Regions from separate parts of the Homo sapiens genome. Here all the other regions are linked to region 1. Evidence: fine-mapped expression QTL. A gene starts in region 1. Each other region holds a variant in brackets. All regions are shown on one strand. Distances are from middle to middle.

Evidence for each region. PIP is the estimated chance that this variant, and not a neighbour inherited with it, causes the effect. A credible set is the group of variants that fine-mapping cannot tell apart.
Region 2: its variant is the best candidate, but not a certain one, in a credible set for the expression of SUPT3H in prefrontal cortex (BrainSeq, PIP 0.76).
Region 3: its variant is the best candidate, but not a certain one, in a credible set for the expression of SUPT3H in cerebellum (GTEx, PIP 0.69).
Region 4: its variant is the best candidate, but not a certain one, in a credible set for the expression of SUPT3H in whole blood (TOPMed, PIP 0.63).
Region 5: its variant is the best candidate, but not a certain one, in a credible set for the expression of SUPT3H in whole blood (TOPMed, PIP 0.53).
Region 6: its variant is the best candidate, but not a certain one, in a credible set for the expression of SUPT3H in tibial nerve (GTEx, PIP 0.55).

What each region holds. Positions count from the first base shown.
Region 1 is chr6:45,375,768-45,380,844 of GRCh38, forward strand. SUPT3H (SPT3 homolog, SAGA and STAGA complex component) reads right to left here and starts at 2,167. Exons shown (of 11, transcript NM_003599.4): 1 at 2,001-2,167. All of the region lies in intron 2 of RUNX2 (RUNX family transcription factor 2), which reads left to right. RefSeq lists silencers at 1,809-2,088, 2,409-2,458 and an enhancer at 2,099-2,642.
Region 2 is chr6:44,807,013-44,812,089 of GRCh38, forward strand. All of the region lies in intron 2 of LOC101929770 (a long non-coding RNA gene), which reads left to right. It also overlaps a transcript of SUPT3H not described here. Among named protein-coding and RNA genes, the nearest start is that of MIR4642, 370 kb to the left of the region's middle. The variant G/A (reference allele first, on the strand shown) is at 2,455.
Region 3 is chr6:44,826,070-44,831,146 of GRCh38, forward strand. It overlaps SUPT3H (SPT3 homolog, SAGA and STAGA complex component), which reads right to left. Exons shown (of 11, transcript NM_003599.4): 11 at 657-3,788. The coding sequence ends at 3,747. It overlaps LOC101929770 (a long non-coding RNA gene), which reads left to right. Exons shown (of 3, transcript XR_926855.3): 3 at 3,519-5,077. Among named protein-coding and RNA genes, the nearest start is that of MIR586, 370 kb to the right of the region's middle. The variant T/C (reference allele first, on the strand shown) is at 2,373.
Region 4 is chr6:44,907,504-44,912,580 of GRCh38, forward strand. All of the region lies in intron 10 of SUPT3H (SPT3 homolog, SAGA and STAGA complex component), which reads right to left. Among named protein-coding and RNA genes, the nearest start is that of MIR586, 290 kb to the right of the region's middle. The variant A/G (reference allele first, on the strand shown) is at 2,073.
Region 5 is chr6:44,930,346-44,935,422 of GRCh38, forward strand. It overlaps SUPT3H (SPT3 homolog, SAGA and STAGA complex component), which reads right to left. Exons shown (of 11, transcript NM_003599.4): 10 at 2,308-2,418. Among named protein-coding and RNA genes, the nearest start is that of MIR586, 260 kb to the right of the region's middle. The variant G/A (reference allele first, on the strand shown) is at 2,732.
Region 6 is chr6:45,333,240-45,338,316 of GRCh38, forward strand. The region is part of intron 2 of SUPT3H (SPT3 homolog, SAGA and STAGA complex component); the gene reads right to left. The region is part of intron 2 of RUNX2 (RUNX family transcription factor 2); the gene reads left to right. Among named protein-coding and RNA genes, the nearest start is that of RUNX2, 7.4 kb to the left of the region's middle. RefSeq lists a silencer at 1-139. The variant C/CT (reference allele first, on the strand shown) is at 2,944.

The sequences.
Region 1 (5,077 bases):
GGTTTTTTATTTGTTCTTTTAGTTTTATTTTCAAATTTGACTTTATATACACTTGCTTTAAAAAAAAAAAACAGATGCACATATTTCAAGTAAAGTAATTTTGTGAAACATCTATTACCTAATTTCACTTATCTCTCCAAAAGATTTGGATAACCATAAAACTAGTTCTAAAATGTCCTAATGCTCAAGAGTTACAATTTTTCAAATCGCTTTATTACACAAAAGGTTAAAAAAGAAAAAAACTTGAATAAGAGCTGGAAACTTCTCACTGAAAAACCAACCAAAGTGGTAAAAGATAGCAGAAACCGACAATCACAAAATAGTACAATAATGTTTAAAGAAAACTCCAGTTAATACTGTCATAGCTCTCTGAATCTGGCATTAGCTGTACAACCTAGGAGACAACGTTTTGCTTTAATTTGTCAAGATGTAAATAAGTACTAACAGACCCATGGTCTGAACTGCAGTATTTGAATGAAAGGCATTATTTGAATATAATTACAATTCCCTATGGCAATAAATGTTCCAAAGAGCTGGCTTATCTGATTTAAAACTCAACCATATCAAGACTCGGAAGGACTCTCAAAATCTAAATTGTAGCCCTGTGCTGTCCAATGCAGTAGCTACCACTAGCCACATGTGGGTATTTAAACGTAAATCAATTTATTAATTTATGAATAAAATTAAAAATTAAGTTCCTCAGTGACACTTATCACATTTCAAGTGCTGAAGAGCCACTGTGCCTAGGCTACCACTAGTGCCTAAAGGCACAGATTATGGAACATCTCCATCAAGGCAGAAACTGCTAGTGAAAAGTGCAGCCCTAGACTTAGGCATACTTCGCTCCAACGTCCCGAATATCCTGAGATAAGAAACTTTCCATAGCACAATGAAGAGCATTCCATTCTTGCAAAGTACTCTCACGAACTGTTTCTCATAGGCAAATTCAGCCTCTTTGAAACATTCACCAGAAATTCCCCAAGTTTTGTCCTTCAAGTAAATCTTTGCAGGGCGAATTTAATTCCTCTTCCAGAGTCTGCCCTTCACATATACTAAGACCCCAGGTCCTCTCCTTCCAAATACATACATACATATATACACATACATATACTTATATACACACATATGTATATACATATATATACACACACATTTCTTTCTACCGAAATAACTTAACATTTCTATTAGCCTCTTGGAGAAATGCTAATTTATCCACGTGTACAGTAATACTACGTCCAGGATCGTCTGAGTGTCAAATATTACATATCACTGTCTTCATAACTTCACTCTCACGTGTGAGACCAAGTGTCCTGATTCTCTGAGAAAATAAGGTCACAGTCATTCTGAACTCCTAAAACGTGGAGAGCAAAAGCAGAGCTAATATGTACTGAGCAGCACCTGGCGCTGTTCTAAGCGTTTAACGTGTATTTTCTCATATAATCCTCACAATTCTGAAATAGGCTATAAGATCGCCATTTTACAGACCAAAACAAGGCAAAGACAAGCTAAATAATTTCCCCAGGGGTCACAGACGTGAGCTCACCCCACAGAGAACACAGCGGATCTTTTCCTCTTTCTGGATGCTACACTCCCACTAACTACCTAACTCTTCTCTCGCCGTGCCATAAAGCAACAATTTCCCTCTTTAATGATTCCTCCGGCAGCCCCCACACTACCTAGACGACCCGCGCACCCCGCTTCTCAGCACAGCCCAGCCCCCCTCACCCCACGCCCACCCGCCAAAAGGGAGGAGTCGAGAGGCAACTCCACGCTCGGCAGCGGAACCAGGGCGCTGCGCCCGGCCAGCGCCTCCCACAGCCGCCCTCCCTTCAACACTCCGGCGTAGACCACGAAGACCCAGGCAGCCGCCCTCGAGCCGGGGCCAGGGCGTGGCCGGCGCGGGGGCCCAGCGACGCTGGGATCTCCGCTCTGCGTCCCTCCCGGCTCTCTGACGTCTCCCCCGCCCGAATCCCCGCACCGCCCCCCGCAAGCCCTACAACCTCTGCTTTAAGAACCCTTGGAGGCACTGCTGCGCTTCCCGCGAGGAGAATGTGGGGGTGGAGATGGTGCGGTTTCTGCTGCTGCGGCCCGGGACACGCTTGGAAAGGGGCGGGGTGGGGGACTGAGAGTGTGGAGTGTAGAAAGGGAAAAGGTGACTCGGCTGTGTGACGGGGCGATGGGGGGGGTACAAGATGGCGTGAGCCCGACTCTCGGTGGGGCGGGGGTTGCGGAGACTGAGGAGTAAGCGATACGGACGCCCCCCGCACTGGCAGTGCGGGCGCATGCGCGCTTGGCCAGGTGGCGCGCGCTCTCCCAGCCCGAGCGAGCTACTTCCGCCACGCTCGCCGGGGGCGGGGCGTTGTGCGCGGCCTTCAGGGCCCGGCTTGGGCAGCGCTGAGCCACGCGGCGGCGTTTAGAGCTGGGGACGCTGGGAGCGGAGTGGGGACGAGCTGAGATCGGTCAGGGTGTACAGGGTGCAGGCTTGAATTCTTTAGGAATTGGGCCCGAGAGGGCTAGGATTTTTGAAGGATTGGGTGACCGGCACTGGAAGTTGATTTTCAACTCCGAGGAAGAGATTCACCGTTCTAAGCTTCTTTCCAGGAATTGGAGTGAACGGGATCTTAATGGGATTGCGCGTTTACAATGGTGAAGGGAAACGGAGGGGTCTGAACGCTCCCCGCAGGGCCGCAGTACAGGCGTGTGGATGTGGAACCCTTTCTGGGACGGCGAAACCAGCTCTTACGCCGCTTCCGCGCGCCATCACTCCCTACCCTGACCTCGCACAGAATCTGTTTCATTAATCTGCTATTAATGTTTTTTCCCCAACTCATGTTACTAGACGCAGGCGTTTAACTACCATGTTTTGTTATTGAAAACTTTTTCTACTTGAAGGCTTTTTTTTTTTTTTGGACGATTCTGTGTTTAGATTTTGGCCTGTTCCTCATTTTAAAATCTTGCACCCCCAGTATTGTACTGTACATTCTGTCCTGCCACATTTAATTGATATAGATGTAGTTCTTTAAATAATACAGTAGTCGTAAGACAATGCTTTCAGTCTTTCACTCTTTATATTATATGAAGTCTTATTTATATTTAACATTCTTATTGCCTGCTTAGAGAAGAAAACTGGTTATCCATGCTCACCTTCACACCTGTGTTGTCAAATACTATAAAATACTGTATTTTATAGGGATTCAAGTATTAACCCTCACCAAGTCTTTTTAAGCATCACTGCTTCAGTTATTTTCTTGCCTATAGATACTGTGAGTTCTGAAATCCCTTCCTTCTATTTGCTTAAATTGTTTAAAATAGCAACTTATTTGGTTATTTCCTCTGTGGATTGTAGTTGAGTCTGCTAGTGTTGTGTTTGATTCTCTTTAATCTCCCCAACGCTTCAATATTTGCCAAATACCTAAAATTCCAAAAGAATAGATATATTTAGGATGTGAGAGCTCAGCTTGATGTGTAAATCAGGGATCAATTCATTGCTGAGCAAAGTGTGCAGTATAAGGGAAAGTAACAGAGTGAGTATGGTGATAACTTCTTACATGGGAAGACTGGTTGAAAGCTCTTTTGAGTACATTACCAAGAAATTAGTTAACAGAAGATTAAGAGAAAAATTAATGTTCACATCTAAAGAAACATAAAAGTAGATCATTTCAATTAAAATTATGTTCAGTTAATGTTATCATAGAAGTTCCTGCACTGGAGTTTCACCTGCATCAGATGAGTACCTGTTTGATCCAGTTTATCAGGATAGAATCCAGATCATCTTATTCTAGGATACTGGTGTCCAGCCTGCATAAAATCACACACAGGCCAGGCGCGGTGGCTCACGCCTGTAATCCCAGCACTTTGGGAGGCCGAGACGGGCAGATCACAAGGTCAGGAGATCGAAACCATCCTGGCCAACATGATGAAACCCCGTCTCTACTAAAAATACAAAAAAGTATCCGGGCGTGGTGGCACGTGCCTGTAGTCCCAGCTACTCGGGAGGCTGAGGCAGGAGAATCGCTTGAACCTGGGAGGCGGAGGTTGCAGGGAGCCGAGATCACGCCGCTGCTCTCCAGCCTGGCAACAGAACTAGACTCCGTCAAAAAAAGAAAAAAAAAAATCACGCACAACAAAAGTTAATGAGAGTGACACATGGAGAAGGGAAACTGAGTTAAGGCATTGATACAGGAAGTTTAAAAATTTATTCTTAGGAAACTGAATTGGGCTGTTGGCAGAGATCTGATTTTTAAAGTCACATGAGTTAACCAGGTTCCTACCTCCTGGAATTTCTTAAAATCCATTTTTGAAAATCTGATTTAGCCATAATTTTGCTCATAGTTTGAGACCATTGCTATATACAAAGGGCCAAAAATATTTTTGCATTACATTCATATCAAATATCCTAAACTATCAATGGTACTAGGGTATCTTAATTATAACAAAGCTAAAACAGCGAAGCTGTTGCTGAAGTTAAGGCTTTGATGACTACCACCTCTCAGAAAAACAAGTGATTTTCCAAGGCATGTGGGGAAAACACATCAGGAGACCAAGTTAATTTATCACTCCACAAAAATGTCTCCATGACCTGGACAAAATTGTTAAAGAAAAATGAAGCATTGTTAGCGTAGACTTTAACGTTCCTCTGGCATGTAATATTCACGTAGACTCACTAGTGCAAAGAGAAAGTGCATGTATCTAAGTAAAAGTGCCCATGGGCATCTTAAAATGATTAGGTAGTAAGCCCACATTCTCAAAAGAGCAGCAGAAGTCATGGCTAATATGGAACCATCTCTCTGATTCCATGGAAGTGGTTTCTTTTTATTATTATTTTTTGAGACAGAGTCTCGCTCTGTCACCCAGGCTGGAGTGCAGTGGCCCGATCTCGGCTCACTGCAACTTCCTCTTCCCCAATTCAAGCGATTCTTCTGCCTCAGCCTCCTGAGTAGCTGGGATTACAGGCGTGTGCCACCACGCCCGGGTAATTTTTGTATTTTTAATAGAGACGGGGTTTCACCATGTTGGTCAGGCTGGTCTCAAACTCCTGACCTTGTGATCTGCCTGCCTCGGCCTCCCAAAGTGCTGG
Region 2 (5,077 bases), 570 kb before region 1:
GAAAACAGTGTTTCTGGTTTTATATAGACAACAAAAGGGGGAAATAAAGGCCAGGGTCCTCACTAGGCAAGGGACAGACGGAGTTCCAGTGCCATCCTAGAATGGCCACCTCTTTGCCCACATGATGTTGTAGCTCCCCATCTCCCTTAAATTGCAGTGCTTGGAGCAGAGAGCTCCCATATGCCTCTGATGTGCTACAGTGTCAGCCTGTTCTGGCTTTTGGAGGGAAGAACAATTTCCAGATTGAGGCTGAACAAAAGGAGCTGTCTTAGGCATTTGACCAAAATATATTTTATCAAAGGATTTGCCATCATTGGAGATACTCTTTCAACTATTATAAATGAATTTCTCCCTGTTTGCATTTCTTATTTAGTGGCATGGCCTGCAGAAACACAAAATTTAAGCAAGAGTACTTATCTATTTTTGAACACAAACATAACATTTTAATTAACAGTACTTACAATAAATAATTTAAAGAACATCTGATTTCTTTTTTACTATTTTTTCCTTTTTAATTAATCAGTAATTTGTGGGGAGACAATCTGAGACTACATAAACCACTTCTTATCAGTCTTCCTCTACCATGGATGATCTTTTAATGCTACTATTCCTTCTTATTTATTAGTTGGCATTCTTCTGCAAAGAAGACTTTTCACTTTCTCCTCTGTTTACTTATTTATACTGCATGGACTCATGAATATTTATTCGATGGGTGACAAACTAGTACTATCATTTATTTTGATGCTCAAATTGTCCCAGATTTGGCCAGTAAGAGCCTCTTCCAGCTCCATTTTTGACCTCTCCCCATGGTTCTTTGACCAGTTCCTTATTTTCTTATGCAATAAAATATTCAAGGCTCATTTTTCCAGGCATCTTTCCCTGCCCTGGTTCTGGGATCAGGCATTTCTCCAAGGAACCCTGAATACCAGTGGGGAATGATATTTAGAAACTAAGATCTGGGCACTAGGTGTGAAAGATCATCACTTTTTAAATGTGTAAAATTTATTTGGAAAAATTTAGGGTGCTTATAAAGAGCTAAGCATGTGCCACAGGTGAAGGCTGCCTTTGGATCCTGAAAGGGTTGGAATTCTAAGAGAAATCACCCCCCGCCCTCACCGGCCCTTGCCAAATAATGTAAATATGTCACGTAGTATGCCAATTACAGTTTCTGCAAATTGATAAGATCTTTAGGCTTTTCTCCTTCTAAGCAAATACTGTTGTCTAAACCTATTTCAAAAGAACATTAGTATCACTCCTAACTGACAGCTCTTGATGTCTGCTAACTCACAGTTCAGTCATTCATCAACGGCGCAGAGTGATTCACAAACTTAATTTCTTGCCAATATCAGTGACTTTAAACATCCATTGTCTCCGAACCCCCCTTTATGAATATAAATCACACACCTACAAAGGCCTGTCATGAATGCAGCGGGCCACATGCAGTATGTCTGTGCCTCATCATTCCTTCTGGCATGTCACCTTAGTAAACAATGTATAGAGTCTCATTCTAACCCTTGAGTCTGTGGTCTTGTTTTCTACAATGGTGGCTGCTGAGCTGAGGCCCCAAGGAAGGTGAGAAGCCAGCCACACTGAGCCAAAGGGCTGGCAACAGTGACTGGAGCAAGGCTGGACATACAGGATTCCCTGTCTTTAACTCCTTTAAGTAAAGTCAAGGGAAAGCAGAGTTTGGTATCCGACTGATGCAGACTGTTGGCTTTTACTTGGCATGTACTTTCTTACTGCTTGAGAAATGTTATTTTTTCCTTAAACTTCTTTCTCATTAATCTTGTGTTAAGAGTGGTCTAACCCTGTTAGTTTGGTAGGCAGCTTCTGTTCCAATTAGCATATATTTCCATAAGTGTTGAGTGGGGAAGGGAAGGAAAACGCAGAATTTCTCAACTATTGACCTTGAGGGACTTGTAGGAAGGTGTGTCTGACATGCTTGTAATACAACTGACTCTGAAAAAGCTCTAGTAAATGGTTAAGTTATGGTTGGCTCTGATGATTTATGCTGAACAGAATAAACTATGATGGAGACATAAAATATTTCTAAGCTTACACTTTAGTCACTCAATATACATGAAACTCAATCTTCTTACTTAAAAAACAGATAGAGCACTGAGAATCTCCTAAGGAAATCAAGTTGTTTATTAGTCTTGTGTTCACCCATGTCATGCATACGAAGATTGAAGAGCTGAAAACGCTTTGATATTCTCCACTGTAAGGCACTGTGTGATACCCCGCTTAAAACTATTCCTACCATTCCACCAAGGGACTTTCCTTTCCACTGACAAGTTGAAGGAGGAATTCAGAGACAGTGCTTCCGTAGCCAAATTGTTTCATTGTTCAAGTATATTGATAGGGTGGTTGCCTAAGCAGAAAATGCAGAATTAAACGAAGGAAGCTTGTTTTGAGAGCAGGTCTGTCACCATCTATGGTACATATGACAAGGAA[G/A]TAAACAGGAAGTGCTGAATTGGCTTGGTTTACTCCTACAGGGACAGAGAGAAATAAAATCAGTGTTTACCAAATGGAAAAGCACAAAGTTGGTACAGAGAGAAATGTTATTTTCAGGCTTCTAAAAAGGCATTACAAATAACACAAAGTTTCAAACCTATAATTAAAAACTATTTTTAAAAAGTTTTGATTAGGTTCCCTTCAAAAATAGGCATTTTAGGCTGAAATAAATTCTTAAAGTTTTGACTCCCACTTATGCTGGTTTTTCCATAATCCACACTCCATAAATGCCCCTCTTAAATAACAGATTTCAGGAGTAAAAAATATGTCTTAAAGTCATCTAGTAGAACTTCAATGCTCCCACTTAATAGATGAGGAATCCAAGACCCCAAAGTTAAAGCAATTTCTCAAACACCACACAGCCATTAAGGGCAGGGAGAATTTAGGATCCAAGTTACTCATCAGGCAAGAGTTACGAATAGATATAATTTCTTAGTGCCAGATCCACGGAGGAAACAAACCTTGTGGTGAAGGGGCCAAATGTATTGTTGGTGTAGTTTTTTCCAGAAGCCAAGACTGGGCCTGTGGGTCCAAACCGAGTATACTTCTGTCCTTCAGCAGCTCTGGACAAGAGCTAAATACCATCTAAATGCCTGACTCCAGAATCATGAGAAATAAAAAAAATAATGTTGCCTTAAAGCCACTAACGTTTGGGGTGGGTTTGTTACACAGCAAAAGATAACTGAAACAGAAATAGGCAGGATCACCCCATGAGGCAAGGAAGCACATCAGCTGAGTTGTTTACTAAGGGCAAAGGCGATATGGACTGGCTAACAGAAGACGGAAGTTATAAATACTAGCAAGGACCATTGGACCAGTTACAGAAATGATGACAGTAGTGGTTGTAAGTATTTCTTTCTTACTTTAATATGAATACAGCATTTTTTTGGTATTAATTTTCTTTACTCCCCCACTTCCATTCCCTATCTTTAATAGAAGATGTGTTAATAGTGGCTAGCCATATAGCTCAGTATTTAAGTTACAGGATATTAAAGAGGGAGTGTGACTCAGAGAAAAGAGGAAAAAATATCACCCCAAAATGGATGTGTCATATAGGACTTAATAGCCTTTTACTAAAAAAAAAAAAAAATGCACTTTTGGCGGGGCATGGTGGCTCACGCCTGTAATCCCAGCACTTTGGGAGGCTGAGGCAGGTGGATCACGAGGTCAGGAGATTGAGACCATCCTGGCCAACATGGTGAAACTCCGTCTCCATTAAAAATACAAAAATTAGCCAGGCCTGGTGGCACATGCCTGTAGTCCCAGCTACTTGGGAGGCTGAGGCAAGAGAATCACTTGAACCTGGGAGGCGGAGGCTGCAGTGAGCTGAGATCGTGCCACTGCACTCCAGCCTGGATGACAGAGCGAGAGACTCCATCTCAAAAAAAAAAAAAATTTATATTAGAACAGTTTTACATTTACTGAATTGTGAAGACAGCACAAAGTTCCCATATACCCAACACCTACTTTCCTCTATTATTAGTAATTTACATTATGATACATTTGTCACAATTAATGAACAAATATTGGTATGTTATTTCCTAAAGCCCATACTTGATTCGGATTTCCTTAGTTTTTATCCATTGTCCCGTTTCTGCTCCAGAATTGCATCCAGGATGCCACATTACATTTATGTCATGTCTCCTTAGGCTCCTCTTGGCTATGATAGTTTCTCAGGCTTTCCTTGACAGTTTTGAGGAGTGTGGTCAGGTATTCTGTAATGCCTCTCAAGTGACATTTGTATGATGCTCAAGATTAGAAGGGGTTATGGGTTATTGGGAAGATGACCACAAAGGTATTTATACCCTTTTTGGAGGACAGGGTTAGCATGCATCATGTTAGGTGGAAGCATTTTGCTGTTGACTTTATTTGGAGGTTAAACATGGTTAAAAGATGTATGTATGGGTACCAAGTAGACAAAGGTTGGATAGACTGCAGTCATTGGTAGTGTGCCAACTTGGTGAAACTTAAACTACTTTCCCATTCCCTACAGGGTTCTGAGTTAGAGTTGGCCAAAAGGGAAATGTATGCAGATGTGGAAGGTGGAAATGAAGCAGCTATTGATCTTTGAAGGTCTTGCAGGTACAGAGAAGGCACAGAAATGCTGACAGGTTCTAGCTTGTCTTCACATTCTTCTACTCCACATTCAGTTCTGACTGAAGAGGCTGTTGACCAACAGTGGCTCCCAGCTTATGCCAGACACTCAGTGGTGGGCCTGCCAAGGTGGCAGTTATACAGAAGCATGGCTTCCTGCATACCTTCTCATAAGCCATCACTTTGCAGCCACTTTTGGCACTTGGTTGTTCTTTGTTTCTCACATTGATGGGTTGGTCTTTTTTTTTTTTTTCTCTGATCCTCCAACTTCCTTCCTATGCTTTCACTTTCCTAGTTCTTCTCACAACTGTATAAGGTCTGATTCCTGTAATCCTCATCCCATAGTACACAGTGGTTCTGATTCTGTGACTGAACCCTGACTGATAACTCAAGGTATGAGAGACTGATTTTCAAACTGCAAACAACTACAGAAGCTGGAAAAAAAAATACAAATGCAGTTGTGTAATAG
Region 3 (5,077 bases), 550 kb before region 1:
TATCATGGTATCAGTATCCGACTTACAACATTTGAGACTTTCTTTAAGAGATACGACTTTCTAATATTTGAGTTTTTAACGACATCTGGCCCTTATTTAACCATCACATTTACATCCAATTCCTGCAGGCAAAGTTTTGTTGTTTAAGCTTGGCTAGATGCCCTCTGCAGAAAGCCTTTGCTTTAATGAACACAATTCCACAAAAACTGCTAGAGTTCCCTGCTCTCTTCTCACCCCTGCCACTGTACAACAATAGCATGTAAAGTTTCATCTTGAGTTTCAAATAAGAAGGTAAAAATAAGAAACTGTGTTGCTGGAGAATTAGCTCTTTGTAGTGGCCACTGCTATGACATATTCAACTTGATGCCCTTAGATTATTTGCAGAGTGTTTATGTACTATGAAATGTTCGGCCAGAGCATACAGGAAACTGTAAAATATTTTATGAGATGTATACATGGTTGATGGTAGAATTTTAAATGTAGCCTGGAAAGGTTCTATCCAAATTCCAGGGGGGCAGATGAGAGAATATGTTCTCTTTAGTGATTCAGTTTTACACAAGAGGTTATATGAACTGGAAAGCATTGCCTGATTTGAGAACTACGTAAAAAAATTCATAAAATTAAACTTTATAATTAATTCTAAACAAGTAAACATGTTTTCTTTCAGACCAAGAATCACCAGTTATGTTTATTTGTCTTCTACATGGTAAAAGCATCAGACATGGCTTGTTTATTATTTTATAAAAACAAAGAACAGCAATAAATGAAGGGTTCTCCCCAGATACAGGAATTATATACACCATTTAAAAAATATTTGTGCTTCTGATGGTTTTCAAATAAAAAGTCTTGGTTTTAAAATTGAAACAGTATTTTTGAATCACAACGATTACAATCTAAGAAGGCAGGAAAGCTAATGGCATAACCCTCTAAATGGCACGTTCAGAAAGTTATACTTCCAAATTTAGGTGAAGGGAGAAATATTTCTACTTTCTTTACCCTTAAATCTAGGAAGCAGTATCAAGAGACGCTATTTATTTATTGGCTTATTTATTTTCAAATTCAGTCTCTAAAATACAAGGGACAAAAAATAGAAACTAGCTTTGTATATTTCCATTTGACTTAGAGTTAAGCCTGATGTGTAAGATAACAGACTGTTTACTTAATACCACAGTCACACTGAAGATTTTACTATATAACACGTATGCTTTAGGATGTATCCATAATTAGTACAGTTTTTAAATAAATTTACATCGTTGTCTAGGATAAATATGCCATAAAACCCCAACATGTCTTAGTAATATTCTTATGCTAACCCAGTATGGTAGAAAATACTGTATAATACCGACTGAAAATTAGGGACCATCGATTCTCATCTCTGGTCTGTCACTACATTATTGAGTGATCTTAGGAAACTCACTTTCCCTCTCTAGGCCATGGTTTTTTCATTTGCAAGATGAGCAGCTGTTCTTAATGATCTCTAAGACTATCTTCTGCTCTAACATTATGATTATTGAGAAAATAATTTACTGAAGTTTTCTTAAACATTCCTTCTGTAAATTTTCTTTTGTTTCTATAGTCACTGCTGAAGGAAGTTTTATTTCACTTCAAATTTAGTATTGTGCAAAGAGTCAGAGAAAGAACCTAAGTATAAAAAATAGAAAAGGGAATTAAAAATATTGAGCAATTATGGGGACATGTAGGCTGGTTCAGGACAGACATAAATGACCTTGCTTTATTCTAAATTCAGCTTACTGGCTTATGATGAAAAATGAAAGGTTTTATATGAACTTACTGGGCAAAACCAGATTTTATAAATAATTACCTGTCAGACTGTTCAAGATAGACAAACATATGCCAGACCAACAAAAACACAGACCTGTCATATTTCTGAGAGAAATGTACATTGAGTCTTCCTTCTCTGGGACTATAAGGAGATCAGGTGGAATAAAACGAAGGAAAAAAACCCAAACCCTATATTTTCTGCCTTGTGCATACTTTAAAATGTATAATGTGGGAGAGAAGGAATTTTGATGTGAAAAATTATCCCCTGAAAATTTTATACCATCTATAAGCCTGGCAGATCAAAACCAAATACAATAAATGCTATCGTTTAAAAGTTAAGTTAAGTTAGGATGTTTACTGCAAGCTTGTAATTTTCCATGATTATGGATGCCAAGGAAAATAAGAATGATAAAAAGTTTAATCATAATCATACATTTTAACAAGCATAGATGGAACATCAAAATCCTTTGGGAATATTTTGATATTATATATCTATCCGTGCTTTTTGTTTCTGAAATGCAAATTTTTTCTAAAAAGATTAACATAGAGCAGGTAAATGACAGTTAACAAATGTAAATAATGTGGCATAA[T/C]AATATTAACTGAGCCTCATAATTCTTTGAGTCTGATGGTTTTCAAATAAAAAGTCTTGAATTTAAAATTGAAACAGTGTTTTTGAATCGCAACTATTACAATATAAGAAGGCAGGAAAGCTAATGACATAACCTCTAAATGGCATGTTCAGAAAGTTTTATACTTCCAAATTTGGGTGAAGGGAGAACTATTTCTACTTTCTTTACCCTTAAATCTAGGAAGCAGTATCAAGAGAGGCTTGCTCTCTTGAGCAGTATCAAGAAAAAGGAGCAGTATCAAGAAAAAGATCTTTCATGTTTCTCATTTCTGTTTTTATTAATTCTTTAGAAAGAGTGTTTCAAGTATGTGTAAAAACCATAAAAGTAAAATTATACAAAACTCCCACAGAATTAAAGAAATAACTTTCTTTTTTGCAACTGAAGTTTAATCAGGAACTGTACAATTACATCTGCTATATTTTGGTTTGTTCCAAAGAGTTACGGTTCCTCATTTACTGGAGAAAGTATAGATGCCAGAAGGGTAGCTCGGCTGCTAACAGCAAGAAATTACCCAGCCCACATTTCCAGTCTAGGTGTGGTAGTGCTTTGAAGGGAGGAAGCAAGAAATCACTCTGCTCCCCTTCTACTGATTCTGAATACTTGGCTTCTAAATGTGTATGGCATGTGCAGGAGTGGTGGATCTGGGGATTGGAGGAACAGGAAAAGGAGGGAAATGAAGATGGAGGAAGAGGTTCTGTGTGAGGAAAAACACACATGAAAGGCAGATGGCAGGAAGTTGGGAAGCAGGCATTGAAAATGACACATACTATAAGTGGAGTGAAGGGGAAAGGAGGTGGGAACAGGTGATTTATCAGGTCTGTTAGATCTTTGATTACTGTAAGTTTATAAAATGGATAGCTGTCACTAAAACACATGTCAACAAATGTTGGAAAGTAAAGTTGGTGGTGTAAGGGAAGGCGAAAACTCACTGTCCTTTTAATTTTGTTTCCTTGTTCCAAACCTGGATTATAAAATATATCAAATAAAATGCAGACAAAACGCTGGACGGGGGCAACCACTGCTTTTAAGGTATGTGAGCTGAGGGCAGTAAATCTACTCAAATTAAAATTTCAAAACTGTGTGATCTGCATTCTTGTCCACCTACAGACTATCCTAAACATCCTGCCATTAATTAGCTGAACAGCCCATCTAGTAAACAAGACCGATGGTTGAGGGGCTGGAAAAGAGGAGGAGTCAGCAAGTTGAAAGTCACAACAGACCAGCCCACTCCCTCAGATAAAAGAAAGGTAAATTTGTATTTTATTTTGTTCACAAGAAATCACCTTAATATAACATTGCCTTTCCTGTTGTTGCAGGCACATCACAGTTGTCACATCAGCAGGCTAGAAAAGCCATCCCATTCCTGCGGTAGGCATTCTGTCAAAGAAAAAGAAATCTGCAATGAATTATCACATGAAGTCAAACAAGGAAAGGAGGCAAAAAGCAAGCAGAGCCCTCTTCCTGTTTTGTAGACTCTGCTGGCTACAATCTAATAGAATGCTTAATCTGAATATTTCTGGTGGCAAAACTATAGCAACCATTCTGTCTATTAAAAAGTCAGTGTGGTTAACAAGTGGTTAGTGATTCTATTTTTGGGAAGTAGCAGATACATAAAATAAGACATCCCATTTTGTTAACTGATTGGGCTTGGTTAGGCCAAAGAGATGTATTGAATCTGTTTGTCTTTTATAAACATGTGTTCTCTATTCGATATGCTCAGGAATCACTTCTAACTAACTAAGTATCTTAATAGTCTATAAATTACTGACTCATTACTGGCCCTTCCCGGGCCTAATTTATAGTCTGAGTGAAAAGCTGTCGGAACAGACACTAATAGAGGCCTCTCCTCCTCCCTAAAATATGATGATCTCAAAGGAGTTCTGTATAGTTCTGCATATTGTAGACAGTATCAAAAATGCAAATCTTATATAATTTTATATACATACCTGTACGTACAGATGTACACATGGATATGCATGGTGGGATAAAATACTCCCATAAAAGAAAATGGGAAAATGGATTCTAAGTGCAATAATTAATACGTTTCAGTAAAGAAAGAAAAGTTGCATGCTTTTCATTCCAAGAGACATATTTTGCATTTCAGTGTTGGGAGACCTGGATCACACAGGGTCTCTGTAACATCCTGAATTCCACCATAAGACCCAGAGGGGAGCAGAACTAAAATTCAGGACTTAGGAATAAAATTTCCCTTTCCCTGGCACATTTTTAATCATTTAAACTAGTAACAGTCACATCCAGAGAATTCATAACCGTCAATCTTTTCAGAAAAACAAAGAAAATCATAAAATTCAGGTTAGGGATTTTTCCCCCTTAGGCTAATAACTCTGAAGCAGTTCTGGAGTCTGTATACTTCCAGCCCAATGAATTAACCTTGAACAGCCACAGCCATATTTTAAGAAATACAGAATAACCTTTTACGATCAAGATAATGCTATGGAGGCAGTGAAATCTTCATCTTAAAAAATAATTAAACCACATTTATAATTAATTATACTAAAAATGGAAAGTAGACTTAACCCTTTTAGAAAGACTTCCATCAACATGAGGTGAAACAAATATAGTTTTCTAGATAACCTTCTCTTAATCATAAAATTCAATTAACTTGAAAACCTTCTCTCCAAATATCCTGCTTAAGAAGATTTACT
Region 4 (5,077 bases), 470 kb before region 1:
CTATCTCTACTAAAAATACAAAAAGTTAACCAGGCATGGTGGTACACAACTGTAATCCCAGCTACTTGGGAGGCTGAGGCAGGAGAGTTGCTTGAACCTGGGAGGCAGAGGTTGCAGTGAGCCCAGATCATGCCACTGCACTCCAGCCTGGGCAACACAGTGAGACTCTGTCTCAAAAAAGGAAAACAGTAAAATTATTATACTCTAATTTGTATGCGGTTGTTACAGGCATTATTGTTTTGGAAGGTGATATTTTTCATCTTGTACACAACATGGCTGTCTCCATTTTGTGAGATGCTGACCTCACAGGCTTTCAAAATTTCTGATTTGCTAAAAATATTAGTAATGAATGTTTATCTATATTTTCCTCAATGTTAAGTTAAAGAAAAAGAAAAACAAAACTTGCTTAGTTACTTTCTGAAGATAAGTTTTGATGATGTGGCTCTGACTATGGTAAAGTAAGGAACTGTGGAGGACCAAAGAGCCAGGAGAACTTGAAAGAGTAGCAAGAAATAACCAAAACTGCTGAAATCCATTTCATTGACCTTCTCAAGGAAAAAATTTTAACAACTCCCCATGTGTCCAAAGAATTTAATTTTAACCAGTGCAAAAATGTAGCAAGATTTTTAGAAATAACTTTTTTTTCTTTTCTTTTTTTTTTTTTTTGAGATGGAGTCTCGCTCTGTCACTCAGGCTGGAGTGCAGTGGAGCTATCTGAGCTCACTGCAAGCTCTGCCTCCTGGGTTCACATCATTCTCCTGCCTCAGCCTCCCAAGTAGCTGGGACTACAGGCGCCCACCACCATGCCCAGCTAATTTTTTGTAATTTTAGTAGAGACGGGGTTTTACCGTGTTAGCCAGGATGGTCTCGATCTCCTGACCTCGTGATCCGCCCACCTAGGACTCCCAAAGTGTTGGGATTACAGGCATAAGCCACCGTGTCTGGCCAGAAATACCATTTTTAAAAGCTAGACACTGGGCACTGAATCTCAATTCTAAACAGAAAAGACATACTACGCATGAATTCATGGAACTTGCCTGGCTGCCAAAAATTTGCTATTTCACACTGGTACTATGGGGAAAGTATTTAAGAGAACTGCCAACTACGCAATCTAGCTTCGTAAATTAGACCCATTCCATGTGTAAAGGAAAGTCACCTTTACACCCCAGAAAGTCTTCACTGCAAGCCAACTTTGTGCCTAGCACTATGCAAAGAACTGTGGAAAGGTAGGTATATATAATTCCTGACATATCAGACATGTAGGCCACTAAAATATCTGAGTACAAACTAAAAAAAAAATATTGAAATATTTGGTTTATAGAAGTACTCACTGGTTCAGCCTTACTCTGAGCTAATATTGTCTCTAAAATTTTAATAAATAGGTAATAGTGGAAAATTGGTTTAGAAACTCTAAATTATAGCATAGGGAAATATTAAATAATAAGCTTTCATCTATCTCCTCAGCAACAACTACTTTTATGATTTTCATGTGTCCTTCCAGATAATTCTATGTATATACTAGCATATATATGTATACACATATAGCTATAAAAATATATCTTTAATTACCCCCTTAATATAAATAACACTATGTATCTTTCTGCTGCTCTATACCTAAGAGGTGTGTGTGTGTGTGTGCGTGTGTGTGTGTGTGTGTGTGTGTGTGTGGTTACTAACATATTTTGGGAATTTTTTCTATATCATATGCTAAACTTGCTATCCATATTTGGGTGTATTTCTGATCTTTCTAGGCTGCTCAATTTATCTATTTATGTATTAACATCAAATTGAATTACTGTAGCTTTGTAATGTTTTGATATTGGGCCTAGTTAATTAATAACTCCCTCCCTAATTATACTTTTCAAGAAATTTCCTGGCTCTTCTTATATATTTCATTTTCTATATGAAATTCTGGATCACCTATTTAGTCCTTTCCCCAACCTCTGATTTTGATTTTTAAAAATTGGGATCAGAAGTGCTACATCTTTAAGCTCACACTTATCCTATAAAATGCTCAGATTAAGTCTTAACCATGTAGCATACTAATATATAACAATTATCTTGAATTTTAT[A/G]GTTATCTAGAATTTTCCTATGTACGAAGACTGTTCACTTTTATTATCTCCTTTAACCTTTTCAACCACTATGGCACCATGCAGGGGCCTGTTTTTTGACTCTCACATTACAGATGGAGAGAGGCGCATGGACTTGTCCTCAAGGCCTGTAGGTAAGGGCTCTGACACCTAGCTCAGGCCCAGGGCTCTTCCCATTATACCAAAGGCTGAGGGCATTACAAGTCTTCAGGAAACATTTTCAAAATAGGGAATGCTACCATTTTAGAAATGTTGGCAGGCTATCAAATTTTCAAACTTTAAATGAAGTTTAAAACACAATAATACTGGCATGAATACAGTGAAATGAGAACTCTCACGAATTGCTGGTGGGAGGGTAAAGTAGCATAGCGCTTTTGGAAAGTATTTGGACAATACATACCAAAAGTCTTAAAGTGTTTCAGAGGAAGAAGAAAATTGCTACTGGGATTTCTGGGCTGCAGTTCCCTCTGCTCATGAACCCACTTCCCTTGCTCCAGTTGGGCCTATTTCCCCACTGTCTTCTGAGTCCTGTAATCATGCTCAACTCTCTACCTGTCTGTAGAACCTCCCTTCCCCTATCTTCTCCTTCTCTCTTTTCCCCTACACCTTGGACCTTCAGGCTGGCAAGGTGTCACTGAAACCTGACCTTCCATGTTTCCCAACATTTCCCATTAGCTCCAGATCCTTACATGTCATGCCTTCATTCCCAGTCTCTTATCTTCTCCCAAGGTTTCTCTACTGCGTATCTTGCTGGTGGAGAAAATTGTTTACTATATTCCTTTCATTTTTATTTCAGAATTAATAACCATTGTTCTCATTTTCCAATTAAATGACAAAATTAAAACTTTTTCAAACAATGCACATCCCCTTACTTACTTCATGGGATTTAAGTAACTTTTCCAGAAATAACAACAAAATAAACCCCAAAATGATAAGACAGTCACTGAAATACTTTTCTCTGAATAATATGCCTTTATCTACCATGACCAGAAAATATTATCTAAAGAAATTAAGATTGTGAATCTTCTTCATAATTAGGCAAATATTTTCATTTCCTTTTTCTAATTTCTCTTTGATTTAGAAAATGTATTTTCTTTCAAATTAAAAAAAAAAAAGGGGGCCAGGCATGGTGGCTCACGCCTGTAACCCCAGCACTTTATGAGGCCGAGGAGGGTGGATCACTCGAGGTCAGGAGTTCAAGACCAGTCTGGCCAACATGGTGAAACCCCATCTTCACTAAAAAATACAAAAATTAGCCAGGTATGATGGCAGGTGCCTATACTCCCAGCCACTCGGGAGGCTTAGGCAGGAGAACCATTTGAACCTGGGAGGCAGAGGTTGCAATGAGCCGAGATCATGCCACCGCACTCCAGCCTGGGCAACAGAGTGAGACTCCATCTCAAAAAAAAAAAAAAAAAAAAAAAAAAGTAGCTTCTTTTATAAATGAAATAGTCTAACTTAGATATAATTGTTTTTGATGAGTTTTTTTTTAAAGCTATTGCTAACACTATTGGTAAGCTTTTGCTAACATTATTATCCATATCAAGTAACTATTGATAGCACAATTCAAAATTGATTTCATTTTCCTCCAAAAAGGCTTTGAGAATCTTCTGTTGTTCTCTTTTAGTGCATCTTCTTTTGTCTTAGAATTAATCACTTAAATTTTTTAGTCAGCATTCCCACCACATGTTTGACAGTGGTTGCAAGGTCAAATTTGGTATATATTTAATTAGGATGTTTTTTCCTTTGGGCAGATTCAGAAAATATCATAACTATCTTCCAAATTGTTCCAAAGAATGTCACTGTTATTGACACAACTCCTAGCAATACATTCAAAAGACGATGCATTACTTACGGCATAAAAAATACTTCTGGAATTTATGCCAAAATTCTGGCATGTATACCTTTTCTTTTGTCAGCTGTATTAGTACCATCATGATGGTCTTGCCCTTCAGATGATTTTAAATTTTTAAAATAAAGCTGCAATTTTTATTATAATTTTTTGAAAATTTAATGGACTCATTAAATATTTCTATTTTAAAGAAGGTATTCACAATTCTAATGTCTACTATCCATATAGTTGCCAATATAAGGAATGACTATTACAGTTCATGCACTTTACATCTAGGCCTAAATATGTACCAGTGTAAGGGTAATACGAATTGTTACTGTTTTTCAGCTAACATTTGCAACTGCTGTGGATACTGTGTTAATTTGTGAGCATATTTGGAACCTTGAATTAGAACATGGAGAGAGGCAAGAAAACTGATGCTTGGCACCACTAGGAAACAATGCTTCCTTATGCCAGAAACTATTGCATTCATACCCAGAGAAAGGCTTTGATGAGTTAATTTCCTTTCCCTCTTAAATAAAAGCTCTGCAGCTCAAATCTTCCCCTTGCTCTTACTTAAGCAGTGTCTGTCTACGAAGTCATGGCAGCACAATCCACAGAACTTCATGGAATTCAGCAGCAGTTTCCTTTGGAGGCAGGGGGTGATAAAATATATATAACAAAATTTGTCATTTTAACAATTTTTAAGTGTACAAGTCAGTGGCATTAATTACATTAATAATATTGTACAAGCATCATCATCTACTTTTTCATCATCCCGAACAGAAGTTCTGTGCCCATTAAGCAATAATTCCTCCTCTTCCCCCACTGCTGTAGCTTCTAATCTACTTTCTGCCTGTGTGAATTTGCTCATTCTAGATATTTCCAGTAAGTGGGATCATACAGTATTTGTCCTTTTGTGTCTGGCTTATTTCACTTAGCATAATATTTTCAAGGTTTATCCATGTTATAGCACGTATCAGAACCTCACTCCTTTTTATGGCTGAATAATATTTCATTGTATGTATATACTATGTTTTGCATCCCCATTCATCATCAGTTGCCTCTTATTCAGGGCACATTGTAAGAGATGTGGAGAAGTGGAACCTGAACAATGTTTGTGATAGGAGATACTCTCTACACTGTGGGACCTGGG
Region 5 (5,077 bases), 450 kb before region 1:
ATTCCAGCCTGGGTGACAGAGTGAGACTCCGTCTCAAAAAAAAAAAGAAAAAAAAATTATTACAAAAATTAGTTGGGCATGGTGGCAGGTGCCTGTAATCACAGCTACTCAGGAGGCTGAGGTAGGGAGAACTGCTCGAACCTGGGAGGTAGAAGTTGCAGTGAGCTGAGATCGTACCAATGCACTCCAGCCTGGGCAAACAGAGTGAGACTCCGTCTCAAAAAAAAAAAAAAAAAAAAAAAGTGCAGGCATATTCACTCTTGTAGTGCGCAAATTCTCATAGCTGAAGAAAATGGAGGAGACCTTTCCAGGTGGTGGTCCCCTCCTGAGGAATAATAACACCTTGGGTGCCCCTCTGGGGTGGAGTTTGTTACCATTTGTTGTTGATTTTGTTTGATTGTTCTACTAGCGGCTAACTGAACCTTCCAGGTCATGGCTTGTTTTATTTTCTAGATGTATTTAAATTAAGCATTTTAAAATTGTGTCATCAGTTTTAAAAAGCCCATTCTTTATGTTTATTAGATCCAAATTAGCTTAGGCAATACCTGAAGCTAGCTTAAAGTGCATTTTTATCATATACTAATACTAACAGTCTTAGATTGTAAAAGTAGTAATACATAAGTACCAGGTTGGACATGGGGGAAAAGATATACACACACACATGTATGTAAATAGTGTCATCAACCACGATGGCTCTCAGGTGATCTGTCCAGTCTATTTTAAAAACAAAAACTTTGAAGAGAGAAGCAGCTACCGCTTCTTTTTGAGGAAATAATGCAGACTTCATGATTAGGGCATTTTCTCCTTGTATCAGATACATTTTCCTTTATGTAATCTTATTCATTACTTTTAGTTACCATTTTAGGTTATTTCTCAAAAATCATGTTTCCCTTTGCTATCTTTTAATTGCTTCTAGATTATTATCAAACACTGCCTCTTTTTTCTTCTTTTTCCCTTCCACTGTCTCAACCTATTCATCATTATTTGACTGTTTTCGATGGATTTGATATTTTTAATCTTTCATTATAAGTTTTTTTTCACTCTCAGTTGGTTTTTAAATTCTTACTTCCAATTATCTCTTATTTTTCTCATTCATAATTTTTCATGTTCATCTTCCTTCTGGCCTGTCATTTAAAACAGCTTCACCCATCATGTAAAAGAAACTTGATTTAATTATTTCTTTTCAATTATAAGACTTCAAAAACATTCATGCAAAAGGATATATTGCTTTAATCAGCAATATTAAAATCATGTTCTTATATAAGATAAACTTCAAATATTAAAAGTGCAAAGTTTCACCATTACAGAGAGCTTCTGGAGACATTTATAAAACATGTTCTTCCTGTTACACAGAGAATCTATCTACATAATTAACAACAACTAAAAAAAATAAAGGATGGAAAGAAAGCATTCTATTTAACTAAACATAAGGAAAAAAGATAATATAGACAAAATCATGACTTTTATGAATAGTAAAATCCACTCAGGTAAAAATGTATACTATGTAATACTATTTATTTTCTCATTTGTTTATGTATAATGTTATACATATACATTTTCATTAGCTTGTTAAAACAGAGTATCAAAAAAGTAAATTTGACTTTCCTCAGTTAGGTATATCAAACTTTACTTTCTGTTGAACTACTTCCTTATAAACAGAGTAGGACTTGAAGAAATTTCTCTTAACACAAATAAGATCTTTTTTTTAAAGGGCCATAAGATGAGCATTTAATTAAAACACACACACCTGCACACACTTTCTTTAGACTGTTGAAATATCAGGTCTTTAATTCCCCATTAAAACAACACAAAACCCTGATTATAAGTTTTCAAATCATTTGAAGATGTAAAAGGCTGTCTGCATTTCAGCTTAGTTCAAAGCCAGTAAAGAAATATCTCTTCTTCTTCCAACTAAAAGCATGTTTAGGAGAAGGATATCTGATAGAAGTGGTAATGCCAATCTAACCAATTTTAAAATATAAAGTGCTACTAGCAATATTTAGATACATATAATTTGAGAATAACGTTTTATAAACCTAAGCTTTGAAAAATAGAAACTATAAACCTCAACAAAAAAACTTAATTTGTAATTGAAAGAAAATAATATTTTGTAGAAAAAAAGTGTCCTTCCAAAAAGAGATGAAAATGACTTTCATTTCCCAAGAGAATTATGCCACTTTTATACAACAAAATTACAGTCACCACAAATTGCTTTCAACAATTCCATTGCTTCTTCATTTGACCACTTGAAAATCAAAATTCTTTCATATTATAAATATAACTTTTTATAACTCTGTTATTACGTACTGTGAATGGGGAAAGTGGGCCAATCCTGTGGCTGTAGCGTCGAATGGCCTCTCTGATGTGGCAGGGCTGGATGGCATCGCTGTGAGCCTCAACACCACAGGCTGCAGTGCTCTGCGACAGAAAAACACATAAATTGTTACTAAATCAAAAACACGCAACAGAACTACAGTGTATAAATATGAAAATAAACCTTTACAAAAGAGACCGGTTTTTCCCTTAGGATGCACATCACTACTGCCATATACTACATCTAAAAAAGAATTCCATTAACAAATCAAAGATGACTTTTACATGACCCCTTTCTAGCAGACCTACCAAACGCAATTTTTATGCCCACAATATTTCACCTAAGCCTGCATGTCAAGACACAGGAGAATACAGCCACTTGCCTGCAGATAAAAAGTGTCATGAAAGCTTACTGAAA[G/A]AACCACAGGAAGTTATTTTTTTAAAAAAAACATTTTAACATTTATTATTATAAACGTTTCTTAGGAGCTTCTTTGGCACATTTCTGAAATAACTTGAGGGTCATCAACTTAAAATGAAAAATGTTAAATTATGATACATTTATTTATCATACCTGGGATTGTCATAAGACCATTTCAACTTGGTTTCTAATTTTCTAGGTATCTCAGGACAAAACAAAAACGAAACCAACAACTTTCTGTTTTAATTTGCCGCATCTGTAAAAGGCAGGTTTGCAAGCACAAAAAGATACAAAAAAGATAAGGATTATTTGCGATGAGAGTGTGAATACAAACTTAAGAAATTATAGATGTGTATATGTGTGTTCAGCATGATTTTTCAAAATAACTTATAGGGCTAGGGTTTAGCCCTACAAGTTACCAGCTCTGCCAAGATACATAATATCTCGGGCCTCGGTTTCCTCACCTGTAAATTGGGAAAACAATTATAATTGCTTGTAGGACTGTTGTGAAAATTAAATAAGTTGAAATACATAAACCACTTAGAACAATGCCTGACACATGCTAGGAAATTGTTTTATTTTTATAAAGAGATGTTTCATTTTGTCACCTAGACTGCAGTGCAGTGGTGTGCTCACAGCTCACTGAAGCCTCAAACTTCTGGGCTCAAGCGATCCTCTGGCCTCAGCCTCTGAAGTAGCTGAGACTAAAGGCAAGTGCCACCACATATGGCTAAAAAAAAGGATTAATTTCTTTAGAGATATGGTCTCGCTATGATGCCCAGGATGGTCTTGAACTGCTGGGCTGAAGTGATCCTCCTGACTCAGCCTCCTGGGTAATGTTAGCTAGTAATAGTATTAGGTTATTTAAATTAAGTGTTAAAAATGGGATCGCTAAGTTTTTGAAATGGAAGCTCATTTACTTCAAAGTATAGTAGGTAGCAGATGGCAGGCCATCAACATTAAAGAATTAACTTGCATATTACTATAACGGGTCTAGAAGTCATTTGTAGTCACAGAATTAATATTATTTGTTTTTCTGATAATTACTGTATTTTTTTGATAATTAATACATTTTTTACTCATAATTCTTTGTAGGGAATATAACTCTATAGATAGCAACCTCTATGGATAGCAATTTGGCAAAATCTTATAAAAATGAAAAAGAACAACCTCTTTTACTCAGCAATTTCACCTGTAAGAATTTATCCTACAGATATATTGCACAGGTACAAAATAATATATATACATAAGGATACTTACTATAGTACTAAATGTTCATTAATGAGGGATTGGTTAAATAAATTATCCATTCAAAGAAACAGAAACCAAAGCAACCACTGAAAAGAATGAGGCAGTTCCCTACATACTCCTATGGAGCTATCTCTAAGATATTATATGAAACACTGATCAAAAACTGAAGTAGGAGGTTTACTATGGTAAGTCTTTGTGTTCCCCTAAAATTTGTACGTTGAAATCCAAGCCCACAAAGTGATGGTATTAGGATAAGAAGCCTCTGGGAATTGATTTATCCACGAGGGTGGAGCTCTCATGAATGGAATTAGTTCCCTTTTAAAGAGACCAGGGAAAGACCACTCACCCCTTCTGCCATGTGAGGTTTGGGTGAACAGATGACTGCCTATGAACCAGGAAGTGGGCCATCACAAAACACTGAATTTGCCAATGTCTTAATCTGGGACTTCCTAGCCTCCAGAACTATAAGAAATACATTCCTATTGTTTATAAGCCACCCAGTTTACAGGATTTTGTTATGGAAGCCCAAATGGACTAAGATAGAAGCTAAGTTAGAAAAATTTTGTGACTGCCATTTGTAAGATATGGAGACACATAAGCCAGCCTGGCTGAATCATGCTATTTTTGCCAAAATGTGACATTAAATTATATTAAAATAAAAACATTGAATTTTGTGAAAAATGTCATTAGAGTTTCCATTTTGCCAATTTCAGGTTTATCTGCCATAATTCAGCAACTGTTAACATTAGCATAATGAAGCTACTAGGCGCACTTTTATACTTTCTTGATTTGCTCATTGAGTTCTCCGGAAGGAAGCCTTTAAACGTTATAATCCCAGTTTTTTTTTTTTCCACCTCAACAAATATCTTCACATTCTCTTTGTCTGTCAACATCTAGTCCTTTATCAAGGTGCTAATAATCTGTTCAAATTAAAAATGTATCCAAAGTTTAGAATTTTTAATATAGCAGTGATTCTAGCATTATATTCTTCAAAATTGCTTCAGAAGAATTAACATAAAATGTACATATTTGTTATTAATAATCTTATATCAGCTATAAACACGTGTGAAGAGCATTATACTTATACATCAATTC
Region 6 (5,077 bases), 43 kb before region 1:
AAAATAACAGGGAAATTCTATACCTTATTAAAAGGGAGTTTCCTTACATTTTTAACCACAGTCAACCACAAGCTTTTGTCCATTCAACAGCACATACACATGAAACAGACCATACATTCCCATACAACTGTTTTAAGACCTGTATAGCAATTCAGATTAAATGCTCTTTTACTGTATACAGTATCTTCACTTTATGTAGAATTCTTAGGAATTTCCTCCCCTTTATACTATTTATTAAGGGCATAGGACTCAAGATTTGGAACAGTGTTGAGTGGATGTAAGCAACATGTTATCAAACACTTTAGGTTTTGTTGTTACTGCTGAATAGAAAGAAGCCTAACTAAAGCAAAGTTTTTCATAAACACTAATAAACAGAAACTGCATCATTTAACATGATATAAAAAACAATCATTTTTTATATCATTTAACCTGATATAAAAAACAATCCCCAAATAAGATGAGCTGTAGAATTAAAACAGGCCTTTAAAGGCTAGTTGCTACATAAGTACTTAATACATGAAGAGAAAAAAATTGTTATTCATGCACTTCCTCTACTCTATATTCTTGTTAATACTCATAAATCCAATATACACCCAAGGAACAAAAATCATACCAAGGGTGACTTGAGCTCTAAATAAAAGATAAATGTTTACCTTGATTAGATGATTTTCATCTTTTAAATCAACTGCCCACAAAACAAGGAAATCTCTGACATATATACATACGCAATTTCGATAATGTTTGAGATATTTAAAAATTATCATACTGATGTTAGAAAATTTACCAAGTTAACATTATTCCCAGAAATATATCTAAGATTATTTTGGCAAACAGTTTAAAGACTCTTTTATCTCTACTATTCCTATTGCCAATTCTCTTAATTATACATTAGTTACATCAGATTAGTGACATTTCTAAAAAGGTATATCTAAATATCCTATGTAAGGCAAATAATTTTCACCACAAAGTCAAATAAGGTAATTTTATTTTACATTTCAGTTACATCGATTTTTTACATCAATGATGTCTACCAGAATCATTATATACCATCAACTATAAACATATATTTACATAATAGACTAAGTTAAAACTCAAGAACTTAAATACACATTTGTAGGTTCCCCTAAATTACATGAACCATACCATTATTTACATATTCCTTATAGTCATGTATCTTACACCTACATCTATTTTGTGCTTCAGGAAAAGCAAAAAAAAAAAAAAAAAAAAGACAAAGTTAAATGCTAGCCAAATCACAATAACAATCATCAATAAGGTTTGAATACATATATATGCAGTCTTTCTTTAGAAATATCAGAATAATAACGTGATATTCCACAGAACTTCACATGAACACGATGTATTTTTACACCGAAACAAAATACGTGTCATATATGTTCAACTTAAATTTCTTCTGGCTATGTTTGTCTTAACATTTTTATACATGGCATATACACATGCATGAGTGTGAATGCATTCACACCAATGACTACAGAACTTGTAATAATGATTATAAACCAGGAAAAAAATTGTAAATTATGTAACTGAGGTACTATAGTTCTGTCATGAAATATAATCAAAATTTTTTTGCATGTAAGTTAACAAATGTCAATCTATAAAACCAGTAACAGGGATTAGGCATCTACTAGGAATTTCAAGACTAAAATAATCAATCTTATAAAATCCAAAGATGTTATTTTCCAGTTATAAACTTAAGTAACAATAATTAAAAACTGATATCAGTTAAACAAAGTATTAGAGTTTATAAGGGCAAATATGAATGGAATTAATTTGCTAATAGATTCCTATTTATAAATATTATCTCAAAGAACAACTCTGGCTTGAAGCTAAACAGGTATATTTTCTCATTGACCATGTAACCTGGGTAAACAATTTAAGCATTGAATTTCTAATTTTTCTATGATAATTGCTAGAATTAACTTTCTTTTTAAATTTCTGTACTGAACTTCCCAGTTTAAGACTTCAAATTCCCAATATAATTTTAAGTGAAAAGATATAATTTTACTAAATGATTACAAATTATTTAAATGTATCTAAACAATGTGAATTTACTTTGAAGCTTAAAAGAAAGGATCATGACATTTATTTTACTATGTAATATGGTATTACATTTTACAACATGTCAACCTACTGCTGTATCACTATAACGATCCTAGAAAATCCATGTGTATCAAAAAGGTACACAGTATGGATTCTCTTCAATCAATTACAATTTTATTATAAGATACTTTAATGCAAACACAGCTCATTAAAATACATTTTTTTAGATAAAAGTAAATTCTCATTTTATTTCATAAACTGTCAGATTACAGATATCTGTAACAACTGTACAGGATCACAGAAAGGAAACTTCTTTATGCTAACAATCCACATTATATCAATCACTGTGTTTTCCATAAAGCTGATACCTGTGAAAGTACATAAGCATTTCATACTAAGAACCTAACACCCAATTCAAAAATATTAAGACACCATGAAGTAATCTATGAGAAAACTCCCATCAAGACAACAGCATCTTAACATTAGGCAGGATAAATGGTTACAAAAGATAATCTAATAAGATTAATTTTTTTACCTCTCATGAAATCTGTAAAGCATTTCGGTAATTCAGCTTTTGACAAAATGCAGAAAAACTTGCTACTGCTCTTATAAGAGTCAATGCAAAAATGAAATATTTAAGAAGATAATGCCTATGGAGATACTACTTACAAAGACAATGTGCTACAGTGTATTTCTAAAGAAATGGAAATATACAAGTCAATGTACTCCAACTTTTGATCATTAATCCAACCTCCTTTCCACAGAAGAAACTCCTTTTCACATATTATAAACTCCAGTGTCCACCCAGAATTCTTCTATTCTCCCAGTTTTCAAAACCAAACACATATACATTATTTCTCTCTCTGTAATTTAGAAGGAAAA[C/CT]TTAACATTTTAAAAACTTTTTACCACTAGTAACCACTTCATTTTAAAAGTGTTAGCTAGATAAGGACAATGAGTACTGTCACGAAAGCTTTATTCTTGATTATGTAGTAAAGATTTAACAATATCCCTCCCTTATAACACGCATAAGCATATTGCAGAATATTTTTGTACACCAATAGGACTAGAGAAAACACATAAAGTGATCTGTTTTTAACATTATCACTCACAAGTACCCAGGAAGAAAATTTAGAGCCATGTGCTGATTATTAGGCTTATTTTTATTTTCATAAATATTCTGGTCCTATCAAGACACAAGACACACTAAAATCAGAATCTATCAAGATACACTTAAATATTTTTTAAAACATCAAAATACTTGGCTTAAATTGCTAAATTATTTAATTATTAAATGGTTAAACCACTCTATATATGTACAATAAATTTTTACTCAGACGTATTCAAACAATTTTCTTGACTATAAAATTAAATCCTGTGCTCCAAGAAATACTGTAACACAGTATTTTTAATAAAGTATTTACTTACAAAGTAAATACATATTAGATGTACAAAAAGATAGGAAGTGATTTTCTATAATATAACTTCATTAATAATACATGTAACTCAAATTTTCTACCTCTGTTTTAAACTTTCTTCATTCAAATACATGGTCAATTCACTTAATTTTTTTGATCCAGAAACATCTTAAATGCTGTTTTAAAGGAAACTTTAATAAAAATGGCCTTACTCATTATTATAAACTGGCATAAAAATATTTTTTGAAACTTGCTGTGAAAACAGTGTGATCTGAAAACTTACATACTTAAAACTTATGACATGAACACAAAAAATGCAAGCAAATGCATAAAACTACATAGCAACAATAATATAGTGAGAAGCCAACCCCGAACATAGGAGATATACATATGCTTTCTAAAATAAAAGCTCAAATTAAAGCTTGCCTTTTGAACTGCCCATATGAACAGAACAACATGCCAATGACTTACAGAATTTTTTTCTAAACTGGCAAGACTAAAAAGAATCACATCCAATCCCTATTTTGCAATTATAATGTGTGATACTTTCTTTAACCATAAGACTGTCATTTATTCTAAATTTGCTGGAAAAGCTTGCCATTGCATTTTTCCTGTACGTACCTCTTCCTTATCAATTATGGTGTATCTCCAGCATTCGAAGAAAAAAAAGCTCCAAAACTTTAACTGCATTTAAAATATATAATTAAATCAATATATACAAGGGTTACTCTAAAAATACTCATTTCTAGAAGGCCAGAAAATCTTATTTTTTTAAGCTGATGCATCTACACATAGAAAGCAACTTTTAGTAAGTTCTTTTGCTACGCCATAATGATCTGCTCCAGAAACTCAAGGGTACCTAAAACAACGGACTACCTGTTCTAGCCATGCTTAGGAATGTGTCCAAATCATTTTTATTGATTTAACCTTTATAGGAATGCTACATATCCTCAGAGCAAAACATTTTGAATGTATTTATAATATGATACACTTCTAGAAGCCATGAAAAAGAAAGCTAAAAACAAATCTAAGACGCCCCTCCACTGTTGGTTGTTATGTTTATTTTTGTTTATTTGAAACAAATATTAAATACATATTAAATAATTCTTTTTGCGAAAACTCACTTTGGTACTACTGTAAGTAGAAATAAGATTTTATTTTTTTAGAGAAAAAGTATATTTAAGTAAATTCTAACTTTAAGAAACAAAACTCCTGACTTGACAATGATGTTATCACCTATAAATTTTAAAGGATTCTAAATGCTTCTTTCATACTCTAATTACACATTAATCATGGAACCTATAAACAAATCAAACTTAAACTTACAGAATTTAGTCTTTATTGAATAAACTTAAGTTGTACTCTAGTTTTCATCCTCAGAGTTTACAGATAAAGTTCTGTGTAGCCTATCTTTCTAGCTTTCTGTAAGTTGTACTTTACAAATGGTTTCAACAGCTAATGCCTGTATTAGGTATGTTTGCCAAATAATTCACAATATTATGCTTCCTCACATTATGGTTCAGCATTTGCTAACTTAAACATCACCTCTAAAGAAGTTATACTTTCACTGCAGATTGTTCTCTCAAAAAAGGCAAACAACT